2 linked regions of the Homo sapiens genome follow. The protein of the gene in region 2 purifies or fractionates together with the protein of the main gene of each other region. This does not show direct contact. Each region holds a gene or a part of one and is shown on either strand. Other genes may lie near its edges. The genes, in order: SKAP2 and FYB2.

The links.
Region 1: the proteins of FYB2 (region 2) and SKAP2 purify together in Homo sapiens (affinity purification with mass spectrometry; one large-scale study listed by BioGRID and IntAct). This does not show direct contact.

What each region holds. Positions count from the first base shown.
Region 1 is NC_000007.14:26,738,776-26,742,604, forward strand, and holds part of SKAP2 (src kinase-associated phosphoprotein 2), read right to left. Parts: intron 3,597-3,829; exon of another isoform or gene 3,567-3,596; intron 1,190-3,566; coding exon 1,112-1,189; intron 104-1,111; coding exon 20-103; intron 1-19. UniProt on the Homo sapiens protein: May be involved in B-cell and macrophage adhesion processes. In B-cells, may act by coupling the B-cell receptor (BCR) to integrin activation. May play a role in src signaling pathway.
Region 2 is NC_000001.11:56,739,260-56,743,088, forward strand, and holds part of FYB2 (FYN-binding protein 2), read right to left. Parts: intron 2,963-3,829; coding exon 2,902-2,962; intron 1,537-2,901; coding exon 1,438-1,536; exon of another isoform or gene 1-1,437. UniProt on the Homo sapiens protein: Adapter protein that plays a role in T-cell receptor (TCR)-mediated activation of signaling pathways. Required for T-cell activation and integrin-mediated T-cell adhesion in response to TCR stimulation.

The sequences.
Region 1 (3,829 bases), on a different chromosome or scaffold from region 2:
AATTGAACACCAACATTACCTTTATCACTTCCATAATAATAGAATACCGTTTTACTGAGAGCACACCACCGTTTCTGCCATTCAAATCCCAGAAAGCTGTGATCTGCAATAAAGAGGGGAAAATGTAAGGCCATTTCCTTACTGTAAAAGAAAAAGTTAATTAATATGATTTCTAAGATTCCTCTGAGCTCTAACATTGTGTGACTAATTTGTATCTTCTTTTCCAAGAGACAAAAAACCAAACAACAACAAACCAACACAGCTAAAGGGAATAAAGTAAAGTAGCTATGGGGCTGCCATACTTATGGGATCAACAGCATGGCTAACAAAGTTTTCTGACAGGGACAGTCAAAAAGGTATCTGACTATACAGTCTTGAGATAATTGATCCATCTGGGTCTCATTTTCTCATCTGTTATAAAAAGAAGGGGAGGAGCTAACCTAGATTATTTCTGTTATCTCTTTCAGTTTTAAAATTCAGCTAAGAAAGCTAAGAAAAGCAAAATGAAATATAAATAGAAAGGCCTAAAGGGACTACAAGAGAGATAAGCAGAATGGTAATGAAAAGACTGTCTGCTTTTCATTTCTCATATTATAAAACCACCTCCATATTTCATTTCCATTAAATATTGGTGTTGAAAGAGTGAGACCATATGGTCAACTCCCAATTATCATAGCCAATGGAGAGGAACACTGAAATGAATAATAGACAATGGCAGACAAAACTCCAGGCTTGATCTGAACCATGGTGCATGCCAGTTTGGGCATAGGAGAACCTGCTGCTCAGCCCATTGAGATACTGGTGAGAAATCCCACCTTTGAGAATACAGTCATGGCCTGCAGCTTTCCTTTGAGAGGCAGGAAACAGCTCCTGAATCATTTACAAATAACCAAGGTTGACAACTAAAAACCTAACCTAATGTTTTCTTATTAAAAATTATTTAAAGCTAAGAGCTATATTTTGTGGTTTGGATAATGTCATCCAGATTTTCTTACAATCTTTAAACTCTTTAATCACCTAAAACGAATACTGCCTCCACATGTATACTACAAACATGTTCTATCTAAGGATGAAATTATTTTTACATTTTTCATTAGAACCTTCAGTTTACCTTTTCTGCGTTTTTCAAGGTAGCCAGCCTTTAGAACAAAAGGAAGGTCTTGTGCTGCAATTGGAGGAAACTGGGCTCCTATGAGAAGTTGGGGAGAGAAAAAAAAAAGCAGTGGGTAATCCATTTCAGAATAAACAAGTGCCAGATCTCATTAGATTCAGTGTGCTTTTAATTACTGAAATTGTTTAAATCTAAGTCTATTAGCTTTGTTTCAGATCCATTCCCTAGATTAATCCCCTCTATTCCTCCTAAAAGTCTCAAAAGTAAAAAAAAAAAAAAAAAAAAAAAAGTTCTGTACTCCTATATGTTATTATAGCCTCCCAAAATACAGGACTGAGAAACTATTATAAATAAATGCAATAAATCCCTGAAAGAGAGGTTAAGAATTTCAAATAAATCATAGCTTCGTTATATTTATATTGAATTAACTCTTTAAAAATTTCAATACATATTGACTCTTTCCTGCATAATCCCTATTCCTACCAAGTAAAACATAAAATGCTTTTCCGAATCAAATGCTGAAACTTGTTTCTCTGAGCCCACAGCAAATATTCTCTGTGTTTGTATTCAGAGAAATGTTATGGACATTCCACTGAGTGAGTATGCTTTAGGTTTTTATAGGGCATTTAAGAGTCTAAAACTAGACAGATCTGATAAAACTATTATAAACAAATACTGGATCCCTAAAAAAAGTTTTTAAATCAAGCAAAAGTTAAGTTGATTAGAAATTGTATATTCACGGTCATGGATTATAGGTTACTCAATTTTACAAGTGTTCAATATTTTTATAAACTTCATTAGAAATATAATAGTTATCTGCCGGGCGCAGTGGCTCACGCTTGTAATCCCAGCACTTTTGGAGGCCGAGGCGGGTGGATCACTTGAGGACAGGAGTTCGAGACCAGCCTGGCCAACACAGTGAAACCTGGTCTCTACTAAAACTACAAAAGAAATTAGCCAGGCATGGTGGCGGGTGCCTGTAATCCCAGCTACTTGGGAGCTGACGCAGGAGAATCACTCGAACCCAGGAGGCAGAGGTTGCAGTGAGCCAAGATCACGCCATTGCAATCCAGCCTGGGAAAAAAAAGAGAAAAAAACGAAAACAGAAAAGAAAAGAAATATAATAGTTATCCTCAGCATTTTACTAGAACTCTAGCAAGTGAAAACAACCAATCAAAAGAAAGTTTGTATGGAATACATCCAGTGGAAATAGTTTCAGTACAACTTAGGATAGAAAATGTGTTTGAGTACAAACATGTAATTAGAATGAATAAGATCTAGTATTTGATAGCACAACAGAGTGACTATAGTCAACAATAATTTATTGTACATTTAAAAATAACTAAGTGGCCGGGTGCAATGGCTCATGCCTACAATCCCAGCACTTTGGGAGGCTAAGGAAGGAGGGTCGCTTGAGCCCAGGAGTTTGACACCAGCTTGGGTAACACAGTGAGACCCCCATCTCTACGAAAAATTTAAAAATAACTGGGTGTAGTGGTATACGCGCCTGCAGTCCCAGCCAGTGGAGGAGGAGGGTAGAGGTGGGGGGAAGGGGGTCTGAGGTGGGAGGATCCCCCAAGAGGTCAAGGCTGCAGTGAGCCATGATTGTGCCACTGCGCTCCAGCCTGGGTAATAGAGTGAGACCCTGTCTCTAAATAAATAAATAAATAAATAAATAAATAAATAAATAAATTAATAAAATGAAATAACTAAACAAATATAATTGGATTCTTTGTAACAGAGAAAGAATAAATGGTTGAGGTGATGGATACCTCATTTATCCTGATGTGATTATCATGCATTGTATGCCTGTATCAAAACATACAATATGCCCATAAATTTGCCTATTGTGTACCCACAAAAATTAAAAATTAAAAAAAAGAATGGGTTTGATAGGAAGTTTATTATTTACAAACTCATCACCTAATTTTACCAGTTTTTTTTTTTAATACCATGGGGATCACAGTAGTGATAAAGTCATGGATATTTTTTCTTAAGAAATAAAGCTTAAAATTAGAGCACTAATTTCAGCTCCTTGGTGGATCAACTTCACCCAGTAAACACCACACAGTATCATTAAAACATATTTAAAATAGAGCCCTGATTTTGAAATGTATATGAAATTTTAGGGAAAGTCAGTGTACATATTTTAATAGCTGTTCAATAAATGTATCCAGTTTTTTTCAAAATAAACTTGGTACATATAAAGGTATAAATTATTTATTATAGGATTTTGTACATAAAACAAAAATTACAAACAGAAATCTTATCTCTGTAAACAAGTCCTGGTGAACCACTAATCTAAAGTGGATAATTGTGGAATGATCTGGTCTCATTAAGGGGTAGTCCCACAACCCTCTCACTTCCATTGGGCATAATAAATGCTCTTTACATAAGGAATGGATGCTCACAAAATCTTAAGAAAAGTTAAATTATTCTGAAAAGAAATGGGTACCTTTAGCATAGCTTTCAACTCTAAAATGTTACTGGTCAAAAAGGAGACAGAGAGAGATGGGAAGAAGGGAGAGGGGAGAGGAAGTGGGGGAAAAGGAAAAGGAGAAGGGAAATTAGAATTTACTAGCGTTCAATATACACATAGCCTGAGTCTTTTGCTTTAAGAAAAGTGTTGACTAAATTTCCACCTGATACATCACAATAAAATTTGATGTCATAAGCAATACTTGTTCTGAATTCTAAATTCATGTTTCTAATATAAAA
Region 2 (3,829 bases):
ATGGGACTGCCGGTTATCATGCCAATAATTTTCTCTCAGAAAACATCTAATCTGCTAAGGCCAGGGTCTGCCTTTGTGCATAGGGTCTCGCTGACCACACTCCCTCTTCTTCCATATCAGGACTACAATTTATAAACCTCATGTTTTGTAGGGTCTCTTGGTAGATCTAGATCCAATTGACAGTTGAACTTAAAGCCACAAAACTCTGAGGCTTTATAATCAAAAAGAACTTCAGGGTAGAACAACATAATTCCATCTCACTATAGGTAATTACCTTGGGCAAATTATTTTAGCATCTTCTGCCCTCACAAAATACATCTCTATGTCTGTATATCTACACAGATGTTCCCAGCCTTACAATGGTTTGACTCCCAATTTTTCTGCTTTACAGTGGTGTGAAAGCAATACGCATTCAGTAGAAACCTACTTCAAGTATCCTTAAGACCATTCTTTTTCCACTTTCAGTACAGTATTCAATAAATTACATGAGATAGTCAACACTTTTTATAGACAGGCTTTGTGTTAGATGCTTTTGCCCAACTGTAGGCTGATGTAAATATTCCAAGCATGTTTAAGATGAGCTAGGCTAAGCGATGATGTTTGGTAGATGTATTAAATGGACTTTTAACTTAACATATTTTAGAGTTGCAATGAGTTTATTGAGACACAACCCCATCATAAATTGAGGTGCACCTGAATATCTACATCTATATCTATCTATTGCCTGCAAAGCGTCTCCAGGGTCCCCCTTCCATTATATGCAGGAGAAAAGTGGAATGCTGTGGGTGTATAAAGGAAGTGATATGCCCACAGTTGTACATGGAATAAATGGCAGAACTGGTACTAGAATATAGAATCCAGGTCCCCTCACATCTCTTTCTAGTGCTAGTGAATTTGGAACCTCTCTCAAAACTGGCAGTTAGCCTAGGTTATCTCAGAGGATCTTTTCCAGGTCTAAGACCTTGCAATACACGAACTGTTCAGCTGAGCAGCTCATCTCCCCCTTCCACATATTGCTGCTCTCAAGGGAGATAAATTAAATATGGAACAGTAGACAAATAAAAACTACTGGGGCTTGTAGGGCCCCAAAAGCATAAAAGGACATGGTAAGTAATGCTTAGTGGTAACAACAGGAATAGGATGTTAAGGCTGATGAGGAAAGTTTCCTTTCTGGACTTCGCTTAAGATTTTCCCTCTACCCTTATTTTCAACCCTTTCTCTGCCATTTTTTCAAAGGAGCATGCCACTTTCTCATTAATTAGTCTCTGTGCATGTAGTTCAATCAAAAATTCACAAGAAAGGGGCAGATGATGGCCAGACCCTTGGTTTTAGTTTCTGATATCCCCTTCACTGTTTCTGAGATTGGATGGAGAACATCAACTTGTGTATCTACCAGGTTAATCCCCTCGTGGAAAGGGATTTAAAGGGACTTTTTACCTTAAGTTTTCTTTCGACTTGGTTTTCTTTATTTTAAATCTATCCTTTTCTTTCTTGAAGAATTGCTGCAGTCTTTTGAGTGCTTCTTTTCCATCTAAACTGAGAGGAATCACAGGATATAAGTAACATGGCATTTAAGAGAGTACTAGAGATAGAAGGCTGTTGTATTATAAAATCAAATGCCACATGTTCTCACTTGTAAGTGGGAGCTAAACAATAGGTATACATGGTCATAAAGATGGAAATAACCGACACTGGGGACTCCAAAAAGCGGGAGGGTGGGAGGAAGAATGAAGGTTGGAAAGTTCCCTATTGGGTAAATGTTCACTGTTTGGGTAATGGGTAGACTAGAAGCCCATACCTCATCATTAGGCAATATATTTATGTATCAAACCTGCACAGGTACCTCTGAGTCCATAAAAAAAATAAAGAACCAGAGGCTTTGTTTTCATGTCCAAAACACATCTCACTCAAGAAAGAGCAAGAAGATGCCTTATTGAGTTCTATGCTTTTCTTTGTTTAGATGTGATATGAAGTTGCACACACCAGTCAACTATGAAGGGAGTAATGATATTTCAAGACAAACTACTGCAAGTAATCTCTATTTTGCAGATTTTATGAAGCAGTCTTCCCTTTAGAGGAAAAGATAACTCAGGGAAATGTACTTTACAAACTGTGCTAGAAATACGTTATAGAAAATCCTGACTCTTGAAATTCTTATCATTGATTTTTAATTTACTGAATAATATAGCAGTGATGGTACATTGATTACCCAGCTGATGATTACAATTCTGTCAAATATCCTTTTGGGGCCTTTAGGGGGTAGAGTGAGGGAATGATATACCCACATCGTGCCAACCAGCATGCCCAGTTCAGGGTCTTTTTCCCCTTGAACCCTTAAACTCCTTGCTTTTGACCATTGCCGTTTTCTTTTCCACAACATGTCCTTAATAACTAAACTTGTAGAATAATACCCATCTGAACAAATTTTATTCTTGATAACACTGAATCACACTACATGTTATATTAAGCCCAAATCCCGGAGATAGCCTTACTAACTTACAGAGACACAGGTAAGTCATAACCATTAATTTGTTCCTGGAAAAACAGCTATAAAATTGAAGCAAGTTTTATTAATATTTACATCTCTTTTATTACTTATTTTCTAACCCAATATCAAAATCATTTACTCTGGGAAATGGGTATTTCTCAAAAGCGAGAACAATGTGATTTAATATTGATAGTATATGATTGTACACAATTACAAGTATCCTATTGATCACAATTGTAATATTACAATAGGTTATCATAACTCTCAGTGTGAATCTTTCCTAAAAGATGATGATGGGAGTCGGGGGTGGCAGTGGGGCTGGGGGGCGGATGGTGGGTCCTCACTGAAACTCTGGCTTTACTAGACTAACAGGAAGTCATTAGCCTACAAAGCCAAGAAAGAGAGAAACTCACTCTATCTTTGGGTAGTTGTTCTTTGTTTTGTAGACATCTTCATACAGTTCTCTATTTTCTTCTGAAATTAGAAGAAAACCCTACTTATATTCATTATAATAGCAATAGTTCAGATTCATATTTAACAAAAAGTATTAGATACTTACTAGATGCTAGGTACTTTGATCTTTCTTTTGTTAAATAGTTTTTACTGAAACTCACCCACATGTTTTTAAAAGCATATGGTAAAAATACTTAAACCTCTATAAAAGTATGTATAAATGAAAATTAAGACTCATTTCCACCTGATTCCAAATTTGAACTGATTTAGTCAAAGAAAGTTGGTTCTTCAATAGATTCCTTCCTTCCACCCTCCCTCCTTCCTGTATTTAATACATAACAATCAGAATTTACTAAGCATCAGGCATTGCGCTGAATGCTGGGGCAACCATGGAAAATGAGATATATCTTGAATAATCTCTCCCTTCACAGCATGGCTTTGGCCTAGCCCAACACATAAGCTTAACATACACAGTTATACTTTAATTCAATCCTGAAACAGAGTCTAATGGAAAGAATTTTGAATATCAGGGTCAGGATTTTTAGGTTCAAAACTCAACTTTAACACACAATGATCTTAGAGGAGTCACTTCTCTATGTTTCAATTTTCTTTTTAAAATGAGTGTACTGGGTTTAATGATATTTAAGGTTGTTTTTCCCTCTAAACTTCTGAGATTCTAAGATCAATCAGAGTAACATTTGATTCTCTCCACTCCATTGCTTTTTCTTTTTCTAAAATTTATTTTAAAATTGACAAATAATAATTATATATACTTATGATATATAACATGTTTTGATAATTGTATACATAGTGGAATGACTAAGTCAAGCCAGTTAATGTATTCATTACCTCACATATTTTTTGTGGTGAGAATTTTAAAATCTACTC